Homo sapiens: one gene and its partners. The protein of the gene in region 1 interacts with the protein of each later gene in a pairwise test. Each region holds a gene or a part of one and is shown on either strand. Other genes may lie near its edges. The genes, in order: POMGNT1, RXYLT1 and CXorf66.

Region 1 (9,905 bases):
ACATAGTGGGAAGATTCTCTGAAGGAAGGTTACTCAGGTTCCAATCTCAGCCTTAACATTTGTATTAATTCAGCAAATAGTTATTGAGCAACAGCTGTATGCCAGGTACTTCTCTGGGTGCTGAAGATACAATGGGAAACAAGACAGAGTCCCCACCCTCATGGAGCTTATATTCCAGCAGTGGGAGGTCAACAGAAACAGCCAAGTAAATGTGGATAATGCTAGTAAATGATAACTTGTATAAAGAAGAAAATAAAGCAGGGGATAATGAATGATAGAGGGGAGGGGACATTTTAGAAAGAGAAGGCCCCTGCAAGGAGATGATATGTGAGCAGAAAGCTGAGGAATTGAGGAGTGAGCCAGGTGAGTATCTGGAGGAAGAGCATTCCAGGTGGAAAGAATGGCAAGTGCAAAGCCCCTATAGTGGGAAGGTACACGGCATATTTGAGGAACAGCAAAGATGCTAGTCGAGGTGGAGCAGAATAAGGGAGGAGAGTAGGAGAGTGGTTGGAAAAGAAGGCAGAGAGTGGCGGGAGAGAGAGGTGCAGATCGTGTGGGTTTGTGGAAAGGACTTATTAGCTGGATGACCTTAGAATCTCTAAGCCTTCAGTTATTATTTTATCTGTGAAAGAGAGTAACCATAGAGGGTTATTGCAATAATGTAATGAGCTATTTTAAGTAAAAGGTTGCTACATAGTTCGTGCTCTGTGAGGCCAGGTCTCCTGGAACCATGCCAGTCAGGCTAACTGCCTTCTCTGGTCCCCCAGGATGAGGGCTCCTTCCACCTCAAGGACACAGCCAAGGCTCTGCTGAGGAGCCTGGGCAGCCAGGCTGGCCCTGCCCTGGGCTGGAGGGACACATGGGCCTTCGTGGGACGAAAAGGAGGTGCCGGCATCAGAGGCCATCCACTCTGTAGTATCAAGAGCCTGGGAGGAGCAGAACCCTAGGAGATGGGGTGGGGTGGGGAACAAATAGGAGCCAGTGGCAGTGGGTTGGATGAAAGTAGGCAGGGAGATGGGAAAAAGCCCCCAAACTGGTGTCTGGGCCCCCATGGCCCTCATTCCTGCCTCCTGCCAGGTCCTGTCTTCGGGGAGAAACATTCTAAATCACCTGCCCTCTCTTCCTGGGGGGACCCAGTCCTGCTGAAGACAGATGTGCCATTGAGCTCAGCAGAAGGTGGAGTTAGTGGAGCATGGATGGGGCAGGGCCTGGGCTGGGGGTGGGCATTTAGATCTCTCTGTGGAGCTTTATTCCTTTGATTGTGTGCCTGGGGCTCTTCAAACCTTGCTGGCCCCATGCCTCCATGACAACCGCATCCTTCCCTCAGAGGCAGAGTGCCACTGGGCAGACACAGAGCTGAACCGTCGCCGCCGGCGCTTCTGCAGCAAAGTTGAGGGCTATGGAAGTGTATGCAGCTGCAAGGACCCCACACCCATCGAGTTCAGCCCTGACCCAGTGAGTGGGGCCTTAAGACAGTGAGGTTTGGACTCCTTCCCAGCTCAGCAGGGGGGCCCCAGGAATGATCTAGGTTGGGCTTTCCCTACCTGAGCCTGGGAGAGAACCAGGGGCAGGATTTACACTGCGCTCTGAAAGACAGGGCTGGGGTGAAGGGGCAGGCCATGTGAGTAAAGCTCAGCGCTAGAGTTGGGCTGAGTGTGTGGAGAGCCCAGAACAGGGAAGATCCTCTATCCCTTCCCTGTCTACTCCAGTCTGCACCTACCCTCACCTGAGAAGTCTTCCCTAGGTGGGGATCCCAGTTTGAAGGGGGAATAAGGCAAGAGCTAAACGCTATTTCTCCCACAGCTCCCAGACAACAAGGTCCTCAATGTGCCTGTGGCTGTCATTGCAGGGAACCGACCCAATTACCTGTACAGGTAAGCCTGGGAATGGGCTATACCCAGCACTGAACAGGAGGGTGCTTAGGTCATCTACCTCCAGGAGGAACTCTTGAGGTGGGCAGAAAGGCAATAGATTCTAGACGCATTCACCTCTGTGGGTAAGCATAGGGACTCTGGGCCCAGCTGTAAACACAGGGGAACCTGAGTTGAGGGGTGATGAAGTGACCCTAACCTATCCCTGGGCTCCCCAGGATGCTGCGCTCTCTGCTTTCAGCCCAGGGGGTGTCTCCTCAGATGATAACAGTTTTCATTGACGGCTACTATGAGGTGAGCAGGACTTGGGGGGTGCCTCGGGTGGAGTACAACATGGAGCAGCAGTGATTGCCAGGGACGGGCAAGGGAGACCGCCCAGGCAAGGGCTGTGAAATGTGAAGGCCTTGGATTGCAGAGGTGGGCAGAGGGAAAGTGACCTCACATGGTGAGCAGTGGCCATGTCCCCCAGGAACCCATGGATGTGGTGGCACTGTTTGGTCTGAGGGGCATCCAGCATACTCCCATCAGCATCAAGAATGCCCGCGTGTCTCAGGTACTGCATAGGCAAGTGGGGATGGGGCAGACACCTGGCTCTGCCTTCTACCCTAAAGCTCATGTGCCCTATTCCCACCCCACTCCCAGCACTACAAGGCCAGCCTCACTGCCACTTTCAACCTGTTTCCGGTGAGTACTAAGGATACAACTCTTGGGCCTGGGAGGGGGGAAACATGGGCATAAGGTCTGGGCCTGTTACGTGGCAAGCTCTTCCCCTCACTGGGCCTCATCCTTCACATCTGGAAAATGGGGGTAATGCTGCCTGCAAGAAGAGGGTTGGGGGCAAAGGAGATCACAGGATGGAGAGACCCCTTTGGGACCATGATGTCCCATTCCCCTTCTAGGAGGCCAAGTTTGCTGTGGTTCTGGAAGAGGACCTGGACATTGCTGTGGATTTTTTCAGGTGAGGGGAGTCTCTAGGTTTCAGTTGAGGTCCCTCAGTCTGCAGGGAAAGAGTCAGTGAGGTGTCCTAGAGAGCTTTCTGGAGGACATGAGCTCACAAGTGGGGGCGAAGCCTGGGCAAAGGTAGGATGGCAGGTGTTGGGGCTGCTGTTGAAGGTACAGTGGATGAATGGAGACAGTGGGGATTTGGGGGAAGGAGGTACTCCAGGAAGGAGGTGCTCCTGAGACCCAGCTCCAGCAATTCTAGCATCTCTGTGTGACTAGATTTATCCTTGTCCCTCCCTGAACTCTTTGACCCTGCCTCTCTCAGTTTCCTGAGCCAATCCATCCACCTACTGGAGGAGGATGACAGCCTGTACTGCATCTCTGCCTGGAATGACCAGGTAGGCTGGAATGACCAGGGTTTAGCAGGCGAGTTTATGAGGCCTCAGCTAATACCTCCCACTATGGCACCCTGTCCCCAGGGGTATGAACACACGGCTGAGGACCCAGCACTACTGTACCGTGTGGAGACCATGCCTGGGCTGGGCTGGGTGCTCAGGAGGTCCTTGTACAAGGAGGAGCTTGAGCCCAAGTGGCCTACACCGGAAAAGGTAACTGTCAGGGTAGGGTGAGGGGGCTGGAGTCCCCTACCAACTCGAAACATCTTAACCTTCATCGTGGTCCATGTCTGCCAGCTCTGGGATTGGGACATGTGGATGCGGATGCCTGAACAACGCCGGGGCCGAGAGTGCATCATCCCTGACGTTTCCCGATCCTACCACTTTGGCATCGTCGGCCTCAACATGAATGGCTACTTTCACGTGAGTGGGAGGCAGGGAGCAGGGCACAGTGTGGCATGACAGTCAAGAACAAGAACATGGACTCTGAAGCAATCTTAGCTCTGCTACTTGCTAGCCATGTAACCTTGGGGAAAGAGCTATCCTATTTTTGCCTCAGTTTCTTTATCTGAAAAATGAGGATAAAGGGCTGGGCGCGGTGGCTCACGCCTGTAATCCCAGCACTTTGGGAGGCCGATGCGGGTGGATCACAAGGTCAGGAGATCGAGACCATCCTGGCTAACATGGTGAAACCCCATCTCTACTAAAAATACAAAAAATTAGCCGGGCCTGGTGATGGGCGCCTGTAGTCCCAGCTACTTGGGAGGCTGAGGCAGGAGAATGGCGTGAACCCAGGAGGCGAAGCTTGCTGTGAGCCAAGATCACGCCACTGCACTCCAGCCTAGGTGACAGAGCGAGACTCCATCTCAAAAAAAAAGAGGATAAAATACTACTACCTCACTGGGTTACGATATTTTGAGGTTTAAATGAGTCAATATATGTAAAGTGCTTTGAATTATAAACATATATAAGGGTCAGCTGGTATTGTTTTTATTTTTACTATTTTTAGCACTAGACTGTGGGTGTCTGGGGAGAGTATTTCTGCCTCTAAGTACTGGTCCAGCCCTGCAATCTCTGCCCTTTCCTGTTTTGGCAAGTGCTGGAGCCTATGCTTCAGCCTGAGGAGAACAGGGAAGTCCTTAGGTACCGCCAACCCACCTGGCTGCATTCAGAGGACCATTCCCCAGTTACAGCAAGGGAGGCCTTGAGCCAGCCCAGCCCAAAGGAATGAATAGCGTCCAGCTTGGAACCTCCTAGAAGCCAGAGGTCCCTCAGAGGCTGACTAATACGCGAGCCCCATTCCTCTCCCAGAGAGGGGCAGGCGCTTCCCTCAGGTCACTCTCAGTACCAGAGTCAAAGTAGTTTTTTCCTTCCCAGCCCAGCCCGTCCCTTTGCCCACCACCTCCTGCAGGGCCTGTTTCTGACATCTGTGGCTCTAGAACAGCAGGCCCAGGGAGAACTACAAGAGGCAGGGACTGCTAGTTCATGGGTCTGTGGTGCAGTAGTGTGAGCTGCCGTGACAGCATGAGCTCTCCAGCAATGGTGGAGGCCAAATTAAAGCTAGTAAGAGCTTGCTGAGGATGCTGCAAAGAGGATGGAGAAGACGGTGGGAAATTAGAGGGCTCTTTACAGGTCTAGGACTTCATTTGTGTGTCTTATAGATGTCTGGCTGGTCAGCAAGTGGGTGTGGGCCAGACAATGTGAGGTGCTGATTTTCACTCTCATACCCACTCCAGGAGGCCTACTTCAAGAAGCACAAGTTCAACACGGTTCCAGGTGTCCAGCTCAGGAATGTGGACAGGTTGGGGCTGGCAGCAGGGCAAGGGGTGGATATCTAGGAGATTTGGAGGCCAGTCCCTGAAAGTCCCTTCCAATGCTGGGCCTGTGTGTTTACTCCAGCCCTGCGGCTACAGATTCCCATGTGACCCCTTGCCCTGCTCAGTGCTACCCATGGGACCTGAGGGCCTGCCCACTCCCCTGACCCATTTCTCCCTCCTCTTCAGTCTGAAGAAAGAAGCTTATGAAGTGGAAGTTCACAGGCTGCTCAGGTATGGCCTAGGACAATTGGGGTGTAGCAGGGAGCAAAGAGTCAAATACTGGGGATCTTGGCCCCATAATTTACAGGGTCCTGTGCAAAATGAAAATCAGGGCCCTCATCTCAAACATTAGGAACTTCAGGCCGGGCGCGGTGGCTCACGCCTGTAATCCCAGCACTTTGGGAGGCCGAGGTGGGTGGATCATGAGGTCAGGAGATCGAGACCATCCTGGCTAACACGGTGAAACCCTGTCTCTACTAAAAATACAAAAAATTAGCCGGGCGTGGTGGCAGGCGCCTGTAGTCCCAGCTACTTGGGAGGCTGAGGCAGGAGACTCCAGCCTGGGCGACAGAGCAAGACTCCATCTCAAAAAAAAAAAAAAAAAAAGAACTTCAAGGTGGCAACAGCAGAGCATTCAACCAAGTACAGGGTCCTGTGGGACACACCCATGAAGTGGGCCCTGTCTTGGCTATATTCTCCCACCCTCTACTGCAGTGAGGCTGAGGTTCTGGACCACAGCAAGAACCCTTGTGAAGACTCTTTCCTGCCAGACACAGAGGGCCACACCTACGTGGCCTTTATTCGAATGGAGAAAGATGATGACTTCACCACCTGGACCCAGCTTGCCAAGGTGCTCCAATACCATGCCCACCCTGGAGAACCCCTCCCCCTCACACACATACTGCCCCAAGATCCAGGGAGCCTTTGCTCTGGAATCTTCAACCTCAGAACCTCCTCTTTATACTCTTAGAACACCTCTTCCAACCTCCTTGTCCAAATTCATATTCTAAAAGATGCTATCTCTTACAAATTGAGGTGGTTTCTGAGGAGGGGTGGGGGCTGGGCCAAAGGGTCGTCAGTGACCCCTCCCTACAGCTCTCTGACCCATGTCTCTGTCTCCATCCCACCCTCACTAGTGCCTCCATATCTGGGACCTGGATGTGCGTGGCAACCATCGGGGCCTGTGGAGATTGTTTCGGAAGAAGAACCACTTCCTGATGGTGGGGGTCCCGGCTTCCCCCTACTCGTGAGTGACCCTTTTCTGCCCTGGGAAACAGGAGGCCTAGTGAGATCCAGGGATATAGCTAATGGCTTCTTCTCTATACATTCTTGTATTATTTTCCCAGAGTGAAGAAGCCACCCTCAGTCACCCCAATTTTCCTGGAGCCACCCCCAAAGGAGGAGGGAGCCCCAGGAGCCCCAGAACAGACATGAGACCTCCTCCAGGACCCTGCGGGGCTGGGTACTGTGTACCCCCAGGCTGGCTAGCCCTTCCCTCCATCCTGTAGGATTTTGTAGATGCTGGTAGGGGCTGGGGCTACCTTGTTTTTAACATGAGACTTAATTACTAACTCCAAGGGGAGGGTTCCCCTGCTCCAACACCCCGTTCCTGAGTTAAAAGTCTATTTATTTACTTCCTTGTTGGAGAAGGGCAGGAGAGTACCTGGGAATCATTACGATCCCTAGCAGCTCATCCTGCCCTTTGAATACCCTCACTTTCCAGGCCTGGCTCAGAATCTAACCTATTTATTGACTGTCCTGAGGGCCTTGAAAACAGGCCGAACCTGGAGGGCCTGGATTTCTTTTTGGGCTGGAATGCTGCCCTGAGGGTGGGGCTGGCTCTTACTCAGGAAACTGCTGTGCCCAACCCATGGACAGGCCCAGCTGGGGCCCACATGCTGACACAGACTCACTCAGAGACCCTTAGACACTGGACCAGGCCTCCTCTCAGCCTTCTCTTTGTCCAGATTTCCAAAGCTGGATAAGTTGGTCATTGATTAAAAAAGGAGAAGCCCTCTGGGGATGTCTTGTGATTGTGATTTTGTGTGTCAGGGGGGTGCTGGAGGGAAGTGGTGGAGAGAATACTTGTGTTGGATGGTGAGTTTTCCTTACTGTCCTCCACAGAGTTTATCTTCCATTTGGGGCCATTTGGCCACCAGGGGATGCCTGAGTCTCAAACTCCAAGGTTTTTCCCCAACTCTACCCTAGGACAGCTTGACTTTAGCCCCGCCCTACTTGAGGCTTGGAGCAGCCACCCTACCTCTTCCCCACCGTTTAACCACCAGCCGGGTTCCTGCTTATCTTGCCTGGGCCGGGCACCTGTCCCCAGAGACAGAGCAGGAGAGAACAAAAAGGGATACTGGGGAGTTGGAAGAGGAAATGAGAGAGCAGGTGTGCATAGTAGGGGTGGGAAGGAAGTGGATGGGACAGGACTGGGCAGGCATCATTCAAGAGACGGGCTAGGGTGCAGATGGAGATGTAGGAGCAAGGGTGTCTATGGCCCTTAGAGCACTTTGCTATTCAGAATTCTCTATCTGGGCATTTTTGTGGAGAAATGGGTCATGGTCTTCATCAGATTCTCACATAGCCAGTAACCCAAAGAGGTTAGGAAGATCTAAGTTAGTCATAGGGGCACCAGAAAATGGATGGGATTGTCCAGAGGGAGTGAATGAGAAAGCCTACGGCAGGGAAAAGAACATTTAAGGGATCTGTGAAGGGCCTAATGTCAGGAGGATGAGTGTGGAGCACCTCTTCAGAAAGGGTCTGCCTGCCTCTGTACAAGTACAGAACTCCAGCTGGAACTCCAGCCCTCCTGCCTGCTCTCTGCCCTGCCTCTTTCACAGGTGCTTGGAGCCCAACTCGGTGACAGCATGGGTGGTATGTCGCTTGGACATATCTCGCCACCCTGACGCCTTCAGTGTTTGTTGGAGCTGGATATAGTGCCTGAGGTGGCACAACAGCCAGGTTGAGCAGCAATTAGCCCATGATGAGGTAGAGGCCCGCCCTGGGCAAACAAATCCCATGCAGCCTCCACACAGGCACACGGCAGAGGAGAAGTGTGAGAGGCACAGTATGGTGGTGAAGGGGTGAGGCAGGCTAGCTCCTCCCCCTGTCCCGCACCCTAGCAGGCTCCTGGTCTGGCCCTCACAGACCAGCTCTAAGGCACTGTTTGGTTCTGGCCAGGTCCCTCTTCCTTTCTGGGCTCAGCAAGGGGGTGGTGGTTCTGGGCTGCCCTGGAAAAGCTCAGGAAGAGAGTTACAGGGGTCAAAGGGAAGTAAGGAGGGGGACTGGTTTGTTAGGCTGGGCTTTGCTTGGTAGCAGACACTGTACCCTCTTGCCATAGCCTCCCTCAGGCCTCTCACTCCTGGCTCAACAGTGATCAGGTCTATATCAGACATTCTGGCCAGCTGCCCCTTCAAGTGGAACTAGTACCATGTCAGCCAGGACTACACCAGGTGCTGGAGTTCTGGGCCCAAATCTAGGCTGAGCTCTTCACAGAAGCCTGTGGGACTGGGGCAAGTATCTTGGCCTTTCCGATCCCTAGTTTCCTACCTGGAGCATAGGGATAGTTAGGGCTAAAGAAGAGATGAGGTCTAGGTCAGGTGAGGTGGCTCACGCCTGTAATCCCAGCTCTTTGGGAGGCTGAGGCATGTGGATCACCTGAGGTCAGGAGTTCGAGACCAGCCTGGCCAACATGGTGAAACCCTGTCTCTACTAAAAATATAAAAAGTTAGCCGGGCGTGGCCGGGCACGGTGGCTCATGCCTGTAATCCCAGCACTTTGGGAGGCCGAGGTGAGTGGATCACGAGGTCAGGAGATCAAGACCATCCTGGCTAACACAGTGAAACCCCGTCTCTACTAAAAATTCAAAAAATTACCCGGGCGAGGTGGCGGGCGCCTGTAGTGCCAGCTACTCGGGAGGCTGAGGCAGGAGAATGGCGTGAACCCCAGGGGGCGGAGCCTGCAGTGAGCCGAGATCGCGCCACTGCACTCCAGCCTGGGCGACAGCGAGACTCTCTCAAAAAAAAAAAAAAAAAAACACAAAAATTAGCCGGGCATGGTGGCAGGTGCCTGTAATCCCAGCTACTCAGGAGGCTGAGGCAGGAGAACTGCTTGAACCCGGAGGCAGAGTCCGCAGTGAGCCGAGATCACACCATTGCACTCCAGCCTGGGCAACAAGAGCGAAACTCTGTCCCAAAAAAAAAAAAAAAAAAAGAAAAGAAAAGAAAAAGAGGTGAGGTCTGAAGAACACCAGGTAGGCCAGCAGCAACGAAAAAATGAAGTGCTTGCTGAGATCCCAGAAGCAGGGACAGATCTGGGGTTTTGCCTGAGTGGGAAAGGCAGGCAGCCTGGACCCTAGGAAGGGGGCTCCTGAAGGGCTTCCCAGAACCTAAGGAGTGACCCTTTCCCATTGCCCTGGTAAGAATTCGTCACAAGCTTGTTATTTTCATAGCTTTCCAGTCCAGTGCCCCTACCCAGGAGGGGGTAGTTTCAGTCCAAAGTTCTCCCCTTTATAAGGAGGCAGACTGGCCTAACCCAACTGTACTTCTTCATGCCCTCTCAGCCATCCCTCTTAGTTTCCCTCCAAGGCCTGGAACCCAAATGAAGGGGAGAAATAACCACTTCTGACCCCCAACCCCACCCTACTTCCCTCCTTTCCAGGGCCTTCTGAGTTGGCAGCCCCACAGGAATCCGTGGCCAGTTTAGGCCCCTCTCCCCAAGGATACATGAAGAGTCCAACTGGCAACATTGTAACAGGTTTATGCATTTTGAAGTGCCTTCTACACATCCACCCAGAGGCTCTGCTGATTTCACTTATGCCCAGGCTATAAAATGCCTTTCTCTCATCCCCCAGTAGAGCACTGGGATCACCACTAGGC
Region 2 (9,905 bases), on another chromosome or scaffold:
TATTTTTAAAATATCAAAATATAGGCTGGGCATGGTAGCTCCCGCCTGTAATCCCAGCACTTTGGGAGGCCAAAGCAGGCAGATCGTTTTGAGCTCAGGAGTTTGAGACCAGCCTAGGCAGCATGGCGAAACTGTATCTCTACAAAAAACACAAAAATTAGCACCTGTCGTCCCAGGTACTTGCGGGGCTGAGGTGGAAGGATAGCTTGAGCCTGGGAGGTCAAGGCTGCAAGTGAGCTGTGATCACGTGACTGCATTCCTGCCTGGGCGACAGTGAGACCCTGTGTCAAAAAAAAAGAAGAAGAAGAAGAAGAAGAAGAAGGGCCAGGCATAGTGGCTCACACCTGGAATCCCAGCAGTTTGGGAGGCTGAAGTAGGAGGATTGCTTCAGCCCAGGAATTCAAGACCAGCCTAGGAAATATGGTGAAACCCTGTCTCTACAAAAAACAGAAAAACTTTGTGCGTGGCAGCACAAACCTGTAGTCCCAGCTACTAGGGAGGATCACCTGAGCCTGCGAGGTCAAGGCTGCAGTGAGCCTAGATCACACCACTGCACTCCAGCCGGTGACAGAGCAAGACCCTGTCTCAAAAAAAAAAAAAAAAAAGTATTAAAATATAAAAGTTGGGCTATTTCTGTGTTTATAACACCTTTCCTTAATGAGAGGTGAATTTATAGGCTGTGTCTTCAAAATGTATAATAATTGAACCCAATATTAAATATAATACCAGACTCATTTCTCCTCTATTTGAGCATTTATCTCTATGAACTTTAATCTATAGCCATTTAAACTGCTAATATTTAAATATACCCAAATTATTTCCTGTAAAATTATGGGAAATTATTGTTTTTTAATATTTTAATTTTTTAACTTGTTCTTTTTGAAATAATTTTAGACTTAACAAAAATATTGCAAAAATGGTACCAAAAAAATCCATTACACCTTTCATCCAGATTCCTCAAATGCTAACATCTTACATAATTACCGTATAATTATTTTTTTCAGGAAAATAACATTGATACAAAACTGTTATCTAATTTACAGATACACACATTCCCACTACTGTCCATTTTCTGGCCCAGTTTCCAATCCAGAATCACACGGTGTGCTTGGTTTCATATCTCTTTGGCTTCAGCCAGTCTGTGACAGTTTCTCAGTCTTTGTTGACCTTGTGACTTATGAAGAGTACTGCCCATGTATTTTGTAGAACGTCCTTTAGTTTGGGTTTGTCTGATGTTTCCTTACAGTTCAGTTCAGGTTATGTATTTTGGTTCCGAATACCTCAGAAACAACATCGTGTCATCCTCAGTGTGTCATATTTGTTCCCGTTACTGATTATGTTAACTTTGATCACTTGGCTAAGGTGCAGTCTGCCTAGTTTGTTCACTGTAAAGTTACTGTTTTTTTCCATTGTGATATTTACTAGGAGATTCTCTGGGACCATGTAGATAACCTGTTTTTCAATATGATTACAAGGTCCCACAGTATCTCCCTTTCACCCACAAATGTTAGCATCCATATAAATACCCAAAGACAAATAAAGAGATAAATGCCATTCATTGAATCAGTCATCAGCTGATTATTCATCTCTTAAATTAGGCCTCATCTTCAGAGCAAGGAGTAAAATGTTTAGTAGTCTTAAACGTTTTGATTTTAAGAAACAAAAGTAAAAGGAGCACATCATTTGAATATGATGAATTATTTTGGAACAAAGAATTAAATTGTTTGTTATATGCAAATAAATACATAAAAAACAACCAAGAAAACCTCATAAAAATCCCCAGAATCACTGGATAAAAATTTAAAAATAAAGAAAGTGCAATCCCAATAAGACTTTAATGTTGACCATTCATTAGGAAAAAAGCCTACTGCAATAGTCCTGTCGATAAAAAAAAGAAGAAATTGAGAAAATAAAAAAGCCAACTATTAGAAGAATTTAGGGCCTAAAGAAAATTATATTTCTTTTTCTTTTTCTTTTTTTTTTTTTTTTTTGTGACAGAGTCTTGCTCTGTCATCCAGGCTGGAGAGCAGTGGCACGATCTTGGCTCACTGCAACCTCCACCTCCTAGGTTCAAGCAATTCTCCTGCCTCAGCCTCCCAAGTAGCTGGGATTACAGGCACCTGCCACCATGCCCAGCTAATTTTTGTATTTTTAGTAGAAATGGGGTTTCACCATGTTGGCCAGGCTGGTCTCGAACTCCTGACCTCAGGTGATCCACCTGCCTCAGCCTCCCAAAGTGCTGGGATTACAGGCGTGAGCCACCATGCCCAGCCTCATAAATTATTTTCATACCATATAGAAAGCATAATGATAAGAATATGCATACTCTACCATGTTTATTGTTATGGAAATACAGAAGAAAGGCAATTAACTCAATCTAAGTAGAGTTAGGGGTGTGGGGCCTATCAACAAATGTTTTCTAAAGGAGGTGATAGCTGAGCAGTCTTTAAAATGAGTAGAAGTTAGCAAGGCAGAAAAAAGATTATATTCCCAGCAGAAGTGACATCAGAGGTTCATAAGTGATAAACTTGGGTTTATGCATGGAATTGCAAACCAATCAATATTCCTAGAGCATGAAGAAAAGGTAAGGTAGCTGAGATGGGGAGGATTGAGCAAGGGCCAGATCATGGTGGGCCTTGTATGTACCACATTAAGGCTCTTGGACTTTATTCTAGGGTAGTGAAAAGCAATTGAGGATGATTAAGCAGGATAGTGGTATTGTCATGTGTTTATGTGTGTAGATTTCTTTAGCAGCCATGGGGGAAAGTGATTTGAAGGAGACAGCTGGGTGCAGGCAGACCAAGTAGGAGATTGGAAGTATCCCACAGAGATAAAACTAATGGATGAAATAGGGAAGTGGTAGTGGGTCAGAGCCAGGGACAAATTTGAGAAATATTTAGGAGCAAAATGGTCGGAATTTAGGGATTAATTAGATGGGAAGATGAGAGAGGGAAACAAATCTGAGAAGTCCCTAGTTTCTAGTTTGCATGAGTAGGTAGCTAATGTGACACAAAAATAGAAAATACAGAAATAGCAAATCTGTCCACTCTTCTCTAGCCCACCACCCAACATCTACCTATCTCCTCTTTCTCAGCAGACAACCCTGCCTCCTCTTTCATCAGGAAAATTGAGGACATCATAATTATCTCTCTTAACTAGCTGCTGTAACATGTACCTACTCTCTGTCTGGTCCCTCACCCATCCTTATCTCTTTCCAAGCTCTCAAACATTGAGTGATCTTTCCTGGCTCAAGGTTAAAGCCCACCACCTGTGCATCCCACCTGCTTCTAGGACCTTGTTCCATGCATTACTTCCTTGCTTTCCTTTATTCTCCACTTCATTCATTATTGCTTTATCACCTTCTCTTCAAAACTTTCAGAATCCTTGTCTATACTCACTGTAATCACTTCCTTACTTCTCAACCCATTGCAGTTTGACTAACAAACTTTCCAACACACATATGTACATACATACATACAACCCAGGTATCTGAATCAAATGAAATTTTTTGGGCCCTTAAAGTTTCTTCTTTTAGATCTGTGGTTCCTTGACGGAGGCACTGTGGGACATCACCAAATATTTTAAATATTTATGGGAAACACTGATACTTGATATCTTTCAGGCCCTATGCAAACTGCAAGTTCAAAGCAGTACAGTTTCAACATTAGATTACCCTGCATTTATTTGAACAATATCAGGACTTTGTGAAGCTGGGTTTTCCATGGTTGCCGTGATAAAATGCACGCACTGCACAAAAATGAGTGTGGAACAGGAAATGACACTGACAGTGTCCACTGATTCCAAGGTTTGAGAAGTTCTATAGTGCTCAACAGGTGCACACATGCTATTAAATATTTGTGATTAGTTAAGAATGAAATAGGAATATGAGTTTTTCTTTCAGTGTCTGTGTATTTTTTTAAGTCACTTTTAAGCTGTTAGGACATAGATACTTATTAGGTTGTTTAGACCTAATGACTTTAAAAATTGAACTGTTAAGCATTTCTTTTAGCTTGGGAGACACTGAAAAATTTACAGGAACACTAAAGGTGCTAAGAATCTCTGACCTACACCTTGGCTTCGCAGTATTGACCCCATGGCTTTCACCATTACCAAAACACAGGGAGTTGTGGACATCCAAGACCAAGACAGTATAAATGTGCCCTTGAATGAATCATACTTCATTTTGTTAATTTGTGTGGATCACTAAAATTAGAAAGATATTCCTTTCACATGAAAGTTACATTTGAGAATAGCTTCATATATTTTATTTTAATACATTGACTAAAACCTACTTTGTTTTTCTTTTCTTTTCTTTTTTTTTTTTTTTTTTTTTTGAGACAACGTTTCATTGTTACCCAGGCTGAAGTGCAGTGGCGTGATCTCAGCTCACTGCAGCCTTGACTTCCTGGGCTCAAGTGATCCTCCTGCCTCAGCCTGCTGAGTAGCTGCACCACCATGCCCAGCTAATTTTTGTATTTTTTGTAGAGATGGGTTTTCACCATATTGTGTAGGCTGGTCTCGAACTCCTGGACTCAAGCGATCCGCCTACCTCAGTCAACTAAAGTGCTGGGATTACAGGCATGAGCCACCACACCCAGCTGTATGGCACTCTGAAATTGTTTGGGCACATGATATATATGGACTTAATGTCAAATAACCAAATTTGAGTCTGATCTGTACCATTTCCTATCTAGTGTCAGCTAGCTTTATGCAAGTCATAGAACCTCTCTCAAGATTTCCTTTTTTTTCCTTCATAAAATTGGCCTAACATGGGGAAGGAGGACTGGAAGACTTTCTCATGCTCTTAAGAATTATACCTGCTTATATTTCTAAAAGAGAAATACAAAGTATTCGTATGCTACCAATAATAAATATTTTAAACATACCATAATTATCATCATCATTGCTAGTTTTTCTAGCCCCTCAGATTCTGCATATTGTCTTAAATTACTAGGTTATCACTGAATCATTAGTCATTGCCAGTGCTAGATACTGTCCAAGGCAAACATAGTCCTCAAAACATAGTCCTGGTCCCTGTATGTTATATAATTTTAGAATAATGTCATATAAATCATATGGTACATGCACACATAGTAAAATATATTTTTACGTTTTGTGCTTTAACTAATATCTGTTTAGTATTTGTTAACCATGGAGTTATGGAAAAACTTAAGCTCTGAAGTGAGACAGAACTTTGTTGAGAACTCGTCATTGCCATTACAAGCTGACAGCTAAAGTGCAATTTCACAAATGCCAATGAGAGAATAATGAACTCCTCAGAGTTGTTGGGGGGGTTAATGATGACCCATGCAAAGTGCTTATGTATCATGTATATAAAAGGCGTTGAACAAATGTTTTTATCCCCAGCAGTAAGAAGCAATGAAAGTAGGCTTTGGGTATATTTGTGCTGAAAATTAGATTCTATCAGGATATAAAGAAATGGTTTAAGCAAGTTGTAAAGAATCTAGGATAAGAGTGACTAATTTTAAGATGAATTAAATGGTACTTGTTCTATTTAATACATACTAGTGAAAATATTTCAATGGTACTGGTTGTTCTAGGCAGCACTTAATATGAAAAAAATGAGTTATGATACATGTCTATTCCTTTAATGAAAACTTTTTAAAAATACAGTTAAAAAGAGAGTAGGCTGAGCACAGTGGCTCATACCTGTAATCCCAGCACGTTGGAAGGCCAAGGCAGGTGAATCACTTGAGGTCAGGAGTTCAAGACCAGCCTGGCCAACATGGCAAAAACCCTGTCTCTACTAAAAATACAAAAATTAGTTGGGCATGGTGGCACGCACCTGCAGTCCCAGCTACTCAGGAGCTGAGGCACAAGAATTGCTTGAACCCAGGAGGCAGAGGCTGCTGTGAGCTGAGATCATGCCACAGCACTCCAGCCTGAGCAACAGACTGAGACTCTGTCTCAAAAAAAAAAAAAATGGTAATACAACACATTCCCATTTACTCACCATTCAAAACTAACAAATTTCAGCTCTCTGTCATATTTGCTTCAGATATTTAATTTTCCTGTTAAAAAAATTAAATACTTTCAATAAGGGTAAAGCTCCCTTTGTACTGTTTTCTAGTCCCTTTCATCTTCCTTCCTCCTCAGATACAATTGCTATCATAAATTTGATGTGGATCCTCCCATTCAAATTTTTATATTTATACTGATCCTAAATATATATGTGTAAATAATTTTTATGACTGTACTTTCAAGTTTATGTATATTTTGTGAGTGTCCTAATCCTTGCTTTTTTTAACATTATATTTTTGAGATATAACATTCATGGAATGTTTATAATGCCATTCTTCGTTTCTTAATTTGTCAGCACTTTCTCATCCATTGAGTCAGATGAAGAGTGTAATAGCAGCTCACACCATAAAAGGGTTGAGAACTACTGACTTTAAATGCCTTTCTGGTTTGAACTAAACCATTATTTTACAGAGTTCCATGCTATTCAATTATATTTCTTTGCTTAAGAGTTTAAATTCTAGCCAGCATTTATTTTCAGTGTGGTTAAAACAACAACAGAAAAAAAGGTCAGGCATGGTGGTTCATGCCTGTAATCCCAGTACTTTGGGAGACTGAGGTAGGTGGATTGCTTCAGCCAAGGAGTTCAAGACCAGCATGGGCAACATGGTGAAACCCCATCTCTACAAAAAAATACGAAAAATTACCTGTGTGTAGTGGTGCACACCCGTAGTCCCAGCTACTCGGGAGGCTGAGGTGGGAGGATCACCTGAGCCAGGGAAGTTGAGGCTGCAGTGAGCCAAGATTGCACCACTGCACTCCAGCCTGGGCCACAAGAGTTGAGACCCTGCCTCAAAAAAAAAACAAAAAAACACAAAACTATCACATTTTGTATTATCATATGCAAATTGATCTGCCTACAGCCAAAGCTTACCATTAATCTACAGCTATGCCCCATCATTCAAACTTGTTCAAAAGATTGTATTATAGAAATTTTACTTCTAGATAGAATGTGGATTAAATCTCATTGTAGATTTTGTATAAAATGATGAATTTCTGATACCACATACCTTTGTTCAGGCTTTGTTTGTCTCTTGTTTTTGTTGTGTTGTTTTTAACAGCTTCATCACTGGTCCAGCTGTAATACCAGGGTACTTCTCCGTTGATGTGAATAATGTGGTACTCATTTTAAATGGAAGAGAAAAAGCAAAGATCTTTTATGCCACCCAGTGGTTACTTTATGCACAAAATTTAGTGCAAATTCAAAAACTCCAGCATCTTGCTGTTGTTTTGCTCGGAAATGAACATTGTGATAATGAGTGGATAAACCCATTCCTCAAAAGAAATGGAGGCTTCGTGGAGCTGCTTTTCATAATATATGACAGCCCCTGGATTAATGACGTGGATGTTTTTCAGTGGCCTTTAGGAGTAGCAACGTAAGTACAAAATATGATTAAACATTTTTAGGCCCTAACACCTGAATTTCTGAACCAGGAAGACTTATTCAAAATTGTAATAAATTTAGTTCTTCTGGGATTATTGAGGCCAGGTACAGTCTTTCTCAGAGATAAAAACAGGGTGTGGTCGCATCCTTCAATAACAATTATGATGTTTTTAAGAGTATTTTATTCTTTAATGAGGAGATGAGTTACTTTTTTTCTTTTAAAACCCCAAGGCATAGAATGGATTTTTCAAGCTTATTAGGAGTGCCATAAAAATATATTTAGCAGAGAAATGGCAGATAGATTTTTTTAAAAACAATGATAGTATCTATATATAGTAAAAAAAGGCAATATTATTATATCAGGAATATACCGTACCATTGTGTTTGAGACTGGCTGAATTTATACAAATCTCTTCTATAAAAGGAGGGATTAATTAAATGATAGCTAAGGTTTCTCAAGATACAGTCTTTTAGGCCAGGCGCAGTGGCTTACTGCCTGTAATCCCAGCACTTTGGGAGGCCAACTAGGCAGATTGCTCGAGTCCAGGAGTTCAAGAGCATCCTGGGCAACATGGCAAAACCCTATCTCTAAAAAAAAAAAAAATCAAAAATTATCCGGGCATGGTGACATGGACTCCTGTATGGCGCCTCTAGTCCTAGCTACTCATGAGGTTGAGGTGGGAGGATCACTTAAGCCCAGGAGATTGAGCTGAGATTGTACCACTGCACTCTAGCCTGGGCAACAGAGTGAGATGAGACTGTCTCACCAAAAAAAAAAAAAAAAAAAAAAAAAAAAAAGATATAGTCTTTCTCCAGCTATAAAATGGAAAACATATATTTTTATCTTTCTGTTAATAGGATGTTTTTAATTAAGAGCAAGTTGACTTTAAGATAAGTTGCCACTAGTATATAAACCTCCTGAGAGCAGGGATTTTTGTCTCTTTTGTTCACTGTTCTATCCACAGAGCCTAAAACAGCACCTGCAGAGTAGGTATTCTGTATTTGTTGAGTGGATAAATTATGAAAAATCTCACTGACATGATTTTTGAATCATACATTCATTATTCATCATTCTGTCCCTGGTTGCGGGATGTGGCCTTAGACTGCTGCCTAGTTAGCGACACAGATGTCACTGGCACATCTGTGCCAGTAATGAGATGTATTCCCAAGCCTACTCCTATAACACCCTAACTCAGTAGGTTTGGGGTAAGGCCAGACAAAAAGGTTCTTGTTAAGTAAAGCCAGGTTTAAGACCCTCTTAAAAATCTATTTTTTGAGCAGAGCCTGCATTTGTAAAATGTTTTCATATAGTATAAGATGGAACCTCTTGGTAATCATGATGTTGTTGCACTAGGCCAGTATATTTCTTATATAGGTCTGTGGTTCTCAACCAGGGGCAATTTTGCCCACCGGGAGGCATTTGGCAGTGTCTGGAGACTTTTTTTTTTTTTTTTTTTTGAGACGAAGTCTTGCTCTGTCACCCCAGCTGGAGTTCAGTGGCACGATCTTGGCTCTCTGCAACCTCTGCCTCCCAGGTTCTAGCCATTCTCCTGCCTCAGCCTCCCAAGTAGCTGGGATTACAGGTGGGCATCACCACTCCTGGCTAATTTTGTATTTTTTATAGAGAGGGGGTTTCGCCATGTTGGCCAGGCTGGTCTCAAATTCCTGACCTCAAGTGATCTGCCTGCCTTGGACTCCCACAGTGCTGAGATTATAGGCATGAGCCACTGTGCCTGGCCTGGAGACGTTTTTGATTGTCACAACTGGAGGAAAGAGGTTGTCACAACTGGTATCTAGCAGATAGAGCCCAGGGATACAGCTGAACACCCCACAATGTATAGGACAGCCTCCACAAGAAAAAATTAACCCAAAATGTCAGTAATGCTGAGGCTAAGAAACCCTGTTATATACAAACTGTTAGGTAAAATTTTGTTCTCGTGTGAAAGTTACATTTCAGGTACACAGTTTAATCCCTGGTATTTCCAAATGCTCATAAAAATAGGTAACTTTTCCTGTATGGCATACCATGGTTTTATCTGTCAGTTTGTTTTAATCTACTTGAAAAGCCCTTGGGATTAATTTTTCAGAGCCCTTTGCAATAGCAAAATATATAATCTTTCCTTTTTTTTAATTGACAAATAGTAATGGTATATGATAATGGGGTACAAATGATGTTTTGAAATATATTTACAACGTAGAATGCTTAAATCAGACTAACAAATCCGTAACCTTATATACTTAACAATTTTTGTGGTAAAAACATAACATCTGCTGTTTTAGCAATTTTGAAATATACAGTGCATTATTATTTATTATAGTCACCCTATTCTGTGTGATAGATCACTAAAGCTTATTCCTCCTGTCCAACTGAAACTTCATACCCTTCGATCAACATCTTCCTTTTCCCCATCCATCTCCCTCCCCTGGAGTATTCTGTAATCTTTTCATCACCTGGTTAAAATGTTGCTTAAATCGTGATCAT
Region 3 (10,754 bases), on another chromosome or scaffold:
AATGTATAGAATTCTATACATTGGTGAAAAAAGTACTGCAAGTACACCAAGCAACATGGATGAATCTCACGAGCAACTTTGAGTGAATAAAGCAAGTCACAGGAGAAACGTAAAATGTATAAAATTCCATTTGTATACATTTCAGAACAAAGCAAAACTAAACACACATACTTTTGGAATAAAACAGTAATGAAAATCAAGGGAATGAAAAAAAAGGATAGTGGCTATCTCAGGGCAAGGAGACAAGAGGATAGGGTCAGAGAGGAGCACCCAAGGAGATTCAGTGGCATTGGTGGTGCTGTTTCCTTAAGTTAGTTGGTGCATTCATAAGTATTGGTTTTATTATTTAGCTTCATAAGACATAGATATACATTGCCTTGTGTGCAATCGTATTCCTGTAATTTGTTTTTCTTTGTACATAGTTTTCTAATGAAACTTTTTTTATAGTTTCCGTTTATATTCCCAGCTTATTTTCAAAACCTCCTGGCTTTGCCACTTACTACCTGTGGGAATTTAGACATGATACTTAGCCGTTCTGGATCTCAGTAGGCTCATCTGTAAAAGGAAGATGATAATGCAATGATAGTGCCTACCCAGCTGGCCTCCACCCAAGGGATTGCCGCGAGAATTCCATGCCTGGCATACGGTGGTGCTAATATGCGCTAGTTCCTCTGAGGGACACTGCATTCCGATGAGCAAACCCTCCAACCTGAACTCCTTGTAAAGATTTAGTAAAAGTAGTCAGCTTTTGGCCGGGTGCGGTAGCTCATGCCTGTAATCCCAGCACTTTGGGAGGCCGAGGCGGGTGGATCACCTGAGGTCAGGAGTTTGAGCCTGGCCAACATGGTGAAACCCCGTCTCTACTAAAAATACAAAAATTAGCCGGGCATCATGGCCGGCGCCTGTAATCCCAGGTACTCGGGAGGCCGAAGCAAGAGAATCGCTTGAACCAGGGAGGCGAAGGTTGCAGTGAGCTGAGATCGCGCCACTGAACTCCCGCTTGGGCAACAAAGCCAGACTCTGTCGAAAGAAAAAAAGAAAGAGAGGGAGGGAGGGAGGGAGGGAGGAATTAAGGAAAGAAGGAAGGAAGGAAGGAAGGAAGGAAGGAAGGAAGGAAGGAAGGAAGGAAGGAAGGAAGGGAGAGTCAGCCTTTTTACGCGGTGGTGCGAGGGGACTTGTGTTTCCTCCTCATGTCCTTCCCACTTTTCCTCTACCCCTGGAGAAAAAAAAAAATCTGTAATCATTAGAGCCCTTTTCAAATGCAACCTTGGGTCATTAACACCTTGATGTTTGTGTTCCTTGCCCACACGATGGCAGAATAGGCAAAGAAGTGTGAAATGGATACTAGAATGTCAAAATCTCCCTTAGAGGATGGTTAAAACCTTCTAGAAAGCAACCTATTACGATTTCATTAATGTCAGTCACTGAACAAATTGAGGCTGGACGACAATTGAGATCAAACCAGCTATTCATTCTTTATGTGGTAATAACTAGAGCACATTAACAGACATATGGCATATGAGATTTAAAAATAAACGAAACATAATTTCTAGTACTACAGATGCTTCCTACATGTTCTACCTGAGAGCTCATGCATATATGTGCATGTGTGAAGACCCTGGAGGGCACGCATGTGTACACATGTTGTGAACGTATGCAAGTAAGAATACACATGCCTTTGCACTGGCAGGGAAGTCTTACTGGCTATGCACAGAGATATAAGAGGGGAAGCTGTTAACAGTCTTCTCACCAGAAATGTCCATGCCTGCAAAGAGGAGATGTATTGGTAACTGCTGGCAGGGGAACATTTAAAATTCCAGTGAACGTAGGTGTCAGATTCATTCTACCTCAGCAGCATCCCCTGTGCTACAGAGGTGTGGCTGGGGGCTGCTGTCCCGAGAACAAGTATGCTGGGTCTGGCTTTGACCCATCAATCTGAATTAATGGCTCAGGGACCTCCGTGCTATTATCCTGTTGTTTATATACACACATCACATCAATTTGTATTCGTTAGAGCCCTTCTGGTTGAAAATGACACAAAGCCAGTTCCAACCAGTGAATCAAAAAAAGGACTATATTAATACATATAATCAAACCACTAGAAGGGCAGCAATGCAGATGGCTGTAGGAAAACAGGAATTGTAACTCTCCTTGGAAGACTCTCCATCTTTCATCTTTATGTTTCTCTTTATGTCACTTTTATTCTTTGTTTATTTATTTTGAGACAGAGTCTCACTCTGTGGCCTAGGCTGGAGTGCAGTGGCGTGATCTCGGCTCACTGCAACCTCTGCCTCCTGGGTTCAAACAATTCTCCAACCTCAGCCTCCCAAGTAGCTGGGATTATAGGTGTGTGCTACCATGCCCAGCTAATTTTTGTATTTTTAGTAGAGACGGGGTTTCACCATTTTGGCCAGGCTAGTCTCGGACTCCTGAACTCAAGAGATATGCCCGCCTCAGCCTCCCAAAGTGCTGGGATTACAGGCATGAGCCACCACACCCAGCCACTTTCATCCTTTCTAATTAGCTTACTCCTGCCATCAGGGGCTGTGTCACAGGTACCTTTGGACATCTTTTCCAGGTTTACTGCGCTGGTGGTAAGGGAATTTCTCAGCCCAGATTGTTTGAAAAATCTTTGGGGAAAACTTCTGATTAGCCTGTCCTGAGTCACATGCCCAACTATAAACCAATCACTATGGTTAGAGATGGGAACCGATTACTGGTCTAGCCTGAGCCACATGCTCACCCTTGTGGCCAGGAGAGAGGGATACTATAATTGTTAGTTCTTATCAAGACCATTTGGTTGAGGTGGAAAGAAGTGGTTTTCCAAAATGATAGATTTCCTGCCCCCAAGAAGATAAAACAATTCATTATGTCTGTGAAAAAGAGAAGGAAGGACTGTAAAGTTCCATATATATGTATATATGATCAACCCTATTGATTATATTTTATGTTATTTACATATTCTACCTCCTTAATAATTTTGTGTCCACTTGATTTATCTTGAGCTGAAAGTTGTGTAGTATAACTTTGCTTCTATCTATTTGTTCTTATATCTCTTCTACTTTTTGTTTCATAAAGTTAAACACTAGAGTTGATTGGCAACCACTCACTTTCCATTTGGGGACTCTTCTGCTTCTCTTTCTGGCCCCCATTCTCAAATTCCCTTCAGTCCCTGACTCCTGATATTAACAACATAGGTATTATCTGCTGGCCTACTTTATCAACTCTCTAAAAGTGGGTACTATACCCAATAATAATAACATTTCTTGACCACTTATTTTATTTTATTTTATTCTATTTTATTTTTTTTGAGATGGAGTTTTGCTTTTGTTGCCCAGGCTGGAGTGCAATAGCGCGATCTCGGCTCACTGCAACCTCCGCCTCCTGGGTTCAAGCGATTCTCCTGCCTCAGCCTCCCGAGTAGCTGGGACTACAGGTGCCTGCCACCACACCTGGCTAATCTTTGTATTTTTAGTAGAGACGGGGTTTCACCATGCTGGCCAGGCTGGTCTCAAACTCCTGACCTCAGGTGATCCACTCTCCTTGGCCTCCCAAAGTGCTGGGATTACAGGCGTGAGCCACCGTGCCCAGCCACATGTGACTTTTTTTTTTTTTTTTTTTTACAAGGAAATGGTTTAAGCATTAGTTGTGTATTTTTTTTAAATATTTTTATTGCAGAAAATTAATATAACATAAAATTTACTATTTTAACCATTTCTGAGTGTACACTTCAGTGACATCAAGCAGATTCACATTGCTGTACAGTCATCATCACATCCATATCCAGAAGTTTTCCACCATCCCAAACTGTACCTCTGTCCCCATTAAACAATAATTCCCCGTTCCCCACTCTACCCAGCCCCTGGTAACCACCATTCTACTTTCTGTCTCTATGAATTTGACCACTCTAAGTACCCCATATAAGTGGAATCATATAATATGTGGCTTATTTCTTAGCATAATGTTTTCAGGGTTCATTCATGTTGTATTATATATTGGAATTCCCTTCCTTTTTAAGGCTAAATATTGTTCCGTTGTATGCATATACCGCATTTTGTTTACCCATTTATCTGTTGATGGACATTTAGGTTGTTTCCACCTTTTGGCTATTGCGAATAATACTGCTATGAATATCAGCATATGAATAGTTGTGTGATTTTTTTAAATCCTGAAAAGGAATATTTATAGAATGTTCCCATTTATATGTAGTATGGGTGTGCATCATGTACATAGATATGTATGTAAATATGTAGAAAGAGATCTGAGAGATGCACATCAAATTTTTGTGTCATTGTCTCCAGAATGGGGATAGAGTGGAGTGGGGAAGGAAAAGAGTCTATAACGTTTTATTCTGTATATGTCTGTCTTGTGTATTTTTCATAATGAGAATGGGTTAATATTAATATATTCCTAATGCAATTTTAAAGTGCAATTAAAAATAGAGATGAAGATTTCAGGCATCTTCACAAGCTGTGAGTAAGGAATATTTAAAGCAATTTTAAAGGGGTCAGAAGATCTCAAGGGATAAAGGAAGTCTGAAATACCTCTGTGTGATTTAAAATTTTTATAAGGTGCATATATTTTTTTAATTAAAAAAAATCAAATAAGGGGAAAAAGTTGAAGGCCCAAGGCGGAATTGCACTGTCAATTGAGGTCCAGAGGAGGGCAGTAGAAATCCCCAAGGTGGCAACCCCAGAAAGGTTCCTCTCACCCGGATGAGGGCAAAGGTTCAAACTTGCCATGTGGGTGCTGGGAAGAGCTTAGGAGCTTTTCCTACTACTGATTCCTATAGATATGACGCCAGCCAGACATTGGAAGCAAGACAATCAAATATAATGGCGGAAATCAGAAAAGTGGTACAGGTTAATCTCTGGAGAACCAAGGAGAGAGAAACCAGGAGCAGCCATTCTTCACCAAGAATCATTACACAAGGGCCCAGGAGCAGCTCTCTGGGGAAAATGACCTAGTGAGATTTTTAGGGGTCTTGGGGACACAGCCCTGTTAAGTACCTGGCTAAGTCCTTGGACCCTTCCCCTCTGCTTTTTAAAGTGGAAAAGAATAAATATGGCCCTGCAGGCTCAAGATACAGAGCTGGGATTAGGGTGAGGGGAGTGGGACAGGCTCATGCAAATGCAGAATCAGATCCTGTCTTTATTTAAATGTTCAATATTTTGTTGGTCATAGATTTTTGGCATTAATTTTGGTTTTTAAATATCACGTTAAAATCTTATTTGATTACTGAATTTTGCAACACCCCTTAAATTTTGTGCTACAGGCAAATATCTCACTGGGTTTTACTCTAGTCCTGGCAACAATCAAAACAATAACAACAACAAATATGAAGCAAGAAATGGGGTTTTATAGTGTACTTATTATATACAATTTTTATCAAAATAATACCTAGAATTTCTGAGTGAAATCTATTATTACTAACATGCTAGTCATGTAAACTTGCAAATGAAATAAAAATCATATAAATCTATGTTAAAGCCAAAGAAAGTAAAGTGTTTTTGTAACCATTATGAATATGAAGTTAATGTTCAAATTAATTTGGAAGCTGTTTCTGAAATACTGGCTTTAAGATATTTGTCTACCATGTATCCAACACTAGGGAAAAAAAAAAACCTGATTTCTTTTTTTAAAAAAGGTGACAGATACATTCTTTCACTTTATAAGCCCTATTCAAATTTTCAAAAGCAGCTTATTCAAAAGCAATAGAATAACATTTTCTGATTTTTATACAGTTAAAAAGTATGAGCAGGATTATTTAGACCTTCAGGGTAAAACTGAGTTGTATTTTTTTTTTTTTGGTTTTTTATTTTTTTTAAGATGGAGTCTTGCTCTGTCACCCAGGCTGCAGTGCAGTGGCGCCATCTAGGCTCACTGCAACCTCTGCCTCCTGGGTTCAAGTGATTGTCTTGTGTTAGCCTCCTGAGTAGCTGGGATTACAGGTGCCTGCCACTACGCCCGGCTAATTTTTGTATTTTTTTTTTTATGGTAGAGAGGGGGTTTCACAATATTGGCCAGGCTGGGGGTTTTCCAATTAATGTTTAATTTTATTATATTCCAATGGCCCCAAATGCATAATTTCAAACACTGTCACCTTTATAGGACATGTTCTTTCATTTCTTTTTTACTCTTTATTTTATTTTTTTTGAGACAGAGTCTTGCTCTGTCGCCCAGGCTGGAGTGCAGTGGCGCAATCTCGGCTCACTGCAACCTCCACCTCCCAGGTTTAAGTGATTCTCCTGCCTCAGCCTCCCAAGTGGCTGGGATTACAGGTGCCCACCACCATGCCCAGCTATTTTTGCATTTTAATAGAGACAGGGTTTTACCGTGTTGGCCAGGCTGGTCTTGAACTCCTGACCTCAAGTGATCCGCCCACCTCCGCCTCCGAAAGTGCTGGGATTACAGCTGTGAGCCACCGTGCCTTGAACCCGGGAGGTGGAGGTTGCAGAGAGCCAAGATGATGCCATTGCACTCCAGCCTGAGCCAAACTCCGTCTCAAAAAAAAAAAAAAAAAAAAAAGTCATTTGGTAAAATTTGTATACAGAAGCTTATGCTTCCCTATGGTGAGATTATGTTGTCAGAGTATGACACACAATGGTAATGATGTCATAAATGCCTAGAACACTCTGAACTGTATAAATTCAGTAGTTACCTTAGTAGACAAATCATTTGAACCAAGTTGCGGACATGAATCTTGTTATTTGTGTCCTACTTTTGTCCATTTGGAAAAATAATTGCATGACTACAAACCAAACCAATGGATCTTCTACTACAGGTAGGTGCCTAACCTTAAAACTTGTAAATTATGATCTGTTACAGTATACATTAAAGTATTTAATTAGAAACGCCAGCTGTATTTAAGAAATCTGCTGTTACTTTTAGCAGTGTTAACATTAGTAGGTCTTCAAGAATTTCTAATACAACAGCTGATATTAAAAAACTTAAGCAAAATATAAGCATCAAGATGACAGACTTATGGTCCTCCTTTACCACCCTTCCCCACTCAATATACCAACCTGTCCCCACCAAACTAGCTAATACTATATAAATGAATCTGGCAAGGGACTTAACATACAGTAGGGGTTTATTTTTGTTTTTTGTTTTTTTTACTTCAAGTTCTGGGATACATGTGCAGAACGTGCAGGTTTGTTACATAGGTATACATGTGCCATGGTGGTTTGCTGCACCTGTCAACCCATTATCTAGGTTTTAAGCCCCACATGCATTAGGTATTTGTCCTAATCCTCTCCCTCCCCTTGCCCCCAACCCCCACAACAGGCCCCAGTGTGTGATGTTCCTCTCCCTGTGTCCATGTGTTCTCATTGTTCAACTCCCACTTATGAGTGAGAAAATGAAGTGTTTGGTTTTCTGTTCCTCTGTTAGTTTGCTGAGAATGATGGTTTCCAGCTTTACCCATGTCCCTGCACAGGACATGAACTCATTCTTTTTTATGGCTGCATAGTATTCCATGGTGTATATGTGCCACATTTTCTTAAACCAGTCTATCATTGATGGGCATTTGGGTTGGTTCCAGGTCTTTGCTATTGTAAATAGTGCTGCAATAAACATACGTGTGTATGCGTCTTTACAGTAGAATGATTTATAATCCTTTGGGTATATATCCAGTAATGGGATTGCTGGGTCAAATGGTATTTCTGGTTCTAGATCCTTGAGGGATTGCCACACTGTCTTCCACAGTGGTTGAACTAATTTACACTCCAACCAACAGTGTAAAAGCGTTCCTATTTCTCCTCCCCTCATCAGCATCTGTTGTTTCCAGACTTTTTAATGATCACCATTTTAACTGGCATGAGATGGTATCTCATTGTGGTTTTGATTTGCATTTCTCTAATGACCAGTGATGATGAGCTTTTTTTCATATGTTTGTTGACCACATAAATGTCTTCTTTTGAGAAGTGTCTGTTCGTATCCTTCGCCAACTTTTTGATGGGGGTGTTTGTTTTTTCTTGTAAATTTGTTTAAGTTCCTTATAGATTCTGGATATTAGCCCTTTCTCAGATGGATAGATTGTAAAAATTTTCTCCCATTCTGTAGGTTGCGTGTTTACTCTGATGATAGTTTCTTTTGCTGTGCAGAAGCTCTTTAGTTTAATTAGATTCCATTTGTCAATTTTGGCTTTTGTTGCCATTGCTTTTGGTGTTTTAGTCATGAAGCCTTTGCCCATGCCTATGTCCTGAATGGTATTGCCTAGGTTTTCTTCTAGGGTTTTTATGGTTTTAGGTTTTACATTGAAGTCTTTAATCCATCTTGAGTTAATTTTTGAATAAGGTGTAAAAAAGGGATCCAGTTTCTGTTTTCTGCACATGGCTAGCCAGTTTTGTCAGCACCGTTTATTAAATAGGGAATCCTTTCCCCATTACTTGTTTTTGTCAGGTTTGTCAAAGATCAGATGGCTTTAAATGTGTGGTGTCATTTCTGAGGCCTCTGTTTTGTTCCTTTGGTCTATGTATCTGTTTTGGTACCAGCACCATACTGTTTTGGTTACTGTAGCCTTGTAGTATAGTTTGAAGTAAGGTAGAGTGATGCCTCCAGCTTTGTTCTTTTTGCTTAGGATTGTCTTTGCTATACAGACTCTTTTTTGGTTCCATATGAGATTTAAAGTAGTTTTTTCTAATTCTGTGAAGAAAGTCAGTGGTAGCTTGATGGGAATAGCATTGAATCTATAAATTACTTCAGGCAGTATGGCCATTTTCACGATATTGATTCTTCCTATCCATGAGCATGGAATGTTTTTCCATTTGTTTGTGACCTCTCTTATTTCCTTGAGCAGTGGTTTGTAGTTCTCCTTGAAGAGTTCCTTCACATCTCTTGTAAGTTGTATTCCTAGGTATTTTATTCTCTTTGTAGTAATTGTGAATGGGAGTTCACTTATGATTTGGCTCTCTGCTTATCTATTATTGATGTATAGGAATCCTTGTGATTTTTGGACATTGATTTTGTATCCTGAGACTTTGCTGAATTTGTTTATCAGCTTAAGGAGATTTTGGGCTAAGATGATGGGATTTTCTAAATATACAATCATGTCATCTGCAAACAGAGACAATTTGACTTTCTTTCTATTTGAATACGCTTTTATTTCTGGCCCGATTGCCCTGGCCAGAAGTTCCAATACTATGTTGAATAGGAGTGGTGAGAGGGCATCCTTGTCTTGTGCAGGTTTTCAAAGGGGATGCTTCCAGCTTTTGCCCATTCAGTATGATATTGGCTATGGGTTTGTCATAAATAGCTCTTATTATTTTGAGATATGTTCCATCAATACCTAGTTTATTGAGAGTTTTTAGCATGAAGGGGTGTTGAATTTTATCAAAGGCCTTTGCTGCATCTATTGAGATAATCATGTGGCTTTTGTAATTGGTTCTGTTTATGTGATGGATTACATTTATTGATTTACGTTTGTTGAACCAGCCTTGCATCCCAGGGATGAAGCCGACTTGATGGTGGTGGATAAGCTGTTTGATGTGCTGCTGGATTCGGTTTGCCAGTATTTTATTGAGAATTTTAGCATCAATGTTCATCAGGGATATTGACCTGAAATTTTCTTTTTTTGTTGTGTCTCTGCCAGGTTTTCATATCAGGATGACGCCGGCCTCATAAAACGAGTTAGGGAGGAGTCCCTCTTTTTCTATTATTTAAAATAGTTTCAGAAGGAATGGTACCAGCTCCTATTTGTACCTCTGGTAGAATTTGGCTGTGAATTGTCTGGTCCTGGGCTTTTTTTGGTTGGTAGGCTATTAATTACTGCCTCAATTTCAGAACTTGTTATTGGTCTATTCACAGACTTGACTTCTTCCTAGTTTAGTCTTGGGAGAATGTGTGTGTCCAGGAATTTATCCATTTCTTCTAGATTTTCTAGTTTATTTGCATAGAGGTGTTTATACTATTCTCTGATGGTAGTTTGTATTTCTGTAGGATCATTGGTGATACCCCCTTTATTATTTTTTATTGTGTCTATTTGATTCTTCTCTCTTTTCTTCTTTATTAGTCTGGCTAGTGGTCTATATATTTTATTAATGTTTTCAATAAACCAGCTCCTGGATTCATTGATTTTTTTGAAGGGTTTTTCATGTGTCTATCTCCTTCAGTTCTGCTCTGATCTTAATTATTTCCTGTCTTCTGCTAGCTTTTGAATGAGTTTGCTCTTGCTTCTCTAGTTCTTTTAATTGTGATATTAGGGTGTCAATTTCAGATCTTTTCTGCTTTCTGATGTGGGCATTTAGTGCTATAAATTTCCCACTTAACACTGTATTAGCTGTGTCCCAGAGATGCTGGTACGTTGATTCTTTGATCTCATTAGTTTCAAAGAACTTCTTTATTTCTGACTTAATTTTGTTATGTACCCAGCGGTCATTCAGGAGCAGGTTGTTCAGTTTCCATGTAGTTGTGTGGTTTTGAGTGAGTTTCTTAAACCTGAGTTCTAATTTGATTGCACTGTGATCTGAAAGACCATTCGTTATGATTTCCGTTCTTTTGCATTTGCTGAGGAGTGTTTTACTTCCAATCACGTGGTTGGTTTTAGAATAAGTGCTATGTGGTGCTGAGAAGAATGTATATTCTGTTGATTTGGGTTGGAGAGTTCTATTAGGTCCACTTGGTCCAGAGCTGAGTTCAAGTTGTGAATATCCTTGTTAATTTTCTGTCTCATTGATCTGTCTAATATTGACAGTGGGATGTTAAAGTTTCCCACTATTATTGTGTGGGAGTCTAAGTCTCTTTGTAGGTGTCTA

Evidence for each region.
Region 2: the proteins of POMGNT1 (region 1) and RXYLT1 interact in binary tests that used the Homo sapiens proteins (3 or more experiments, as listed by UniProt).
Region 3: the proteins of POMGNT1 (region 1) and CXorf66 interact in binary tests that used the Homo sapiens proteins (3 or more experiments, as listed by UniProt).

What each region holds. Positions count from the first base shown.
Region 1 is NC_000001.11:46,185,824-46,195,728, reverse strand, and holds the end of POMGNT1 (protein O-linked-mannose beta-1,2-N-acetylglucosaminyltransferase 1), read left to right. Parts: intron 1-767; coding exon 768-885; intron 886-1,077; coding exon 1,078-1,176; intron 1,177-1,327; coding exon 1,328-1,455; intron 1,456-1,803; coding exon 1,804-1,874; intron 1,875-2,089; coding exon 2,090-2,165; intron 2,166-2,340; coding exon 2,341-2,424; intron 2,425-2,513; coding exon 2,514-2,555; intron 2,556-2,770; coding exon 2,771-2,829; intron 2,830-3,138; coding exon 3,139-3,211; intron 3,212-3,292; coding exon 3,293-3,421; intron 3,422-3,505; coding exon 3,506-3,631; intron 3,632-4,944; coding exon 4,945-5,009; intron 5,010-5,211; coding exon 5,212-5,256; intron 5,257-5,739; coding exon 5,740-5,875; intron 5,876-6,161; coding exon 6,162-6,271; intron 6,272-6,371; coding exon 6,372-6,459; coding exon of another isoform or gene 6,460-6,487; 3' UTR 6,488-6,748; coding exon of another isoform or gene 6,749-7,010; 3' UTR 7,011-7,046; downstream 7,047-9,905. UniProt on the Homo sapiens protein: Participates in O-mannosyl glycosylation by catalyzing the addition of N-acetylglucosamine to O-linked mannose on glycoproteins.
Region 2 is NC_000012.12:63,794,991-63,804,895, forward strand, and holds part of RXYLT1 (ribitol-5-phosphate xylosyltransferase 1), read left to right. Parts: intron 1-7,100; coding exon 7,101-7,415; intron 7,416-9,905. UniProt on the Homo sapiens protein: Acts as a UDP-D-xylose:ribitol-5-phosphate beta1,4-xylosyltransferase, which catalyzes the transfer of UDP-D-xylose to ribitol 5-phosphate (Rbo5P) to form the Xylbeta1-4Rbo5P linkage on O-mannosyl glycan.
Region 3 is NC_000023.11:139,961,439-139,972,192, reverse strand, and holds the start of CXorf66 (uncharacterized protein CXorf66 precursor), read left to right. Parts: upstream 1-6,671; 5' UTR 6,672-6,696; coding exon 6,697-6,784; intron 6,785-10,754.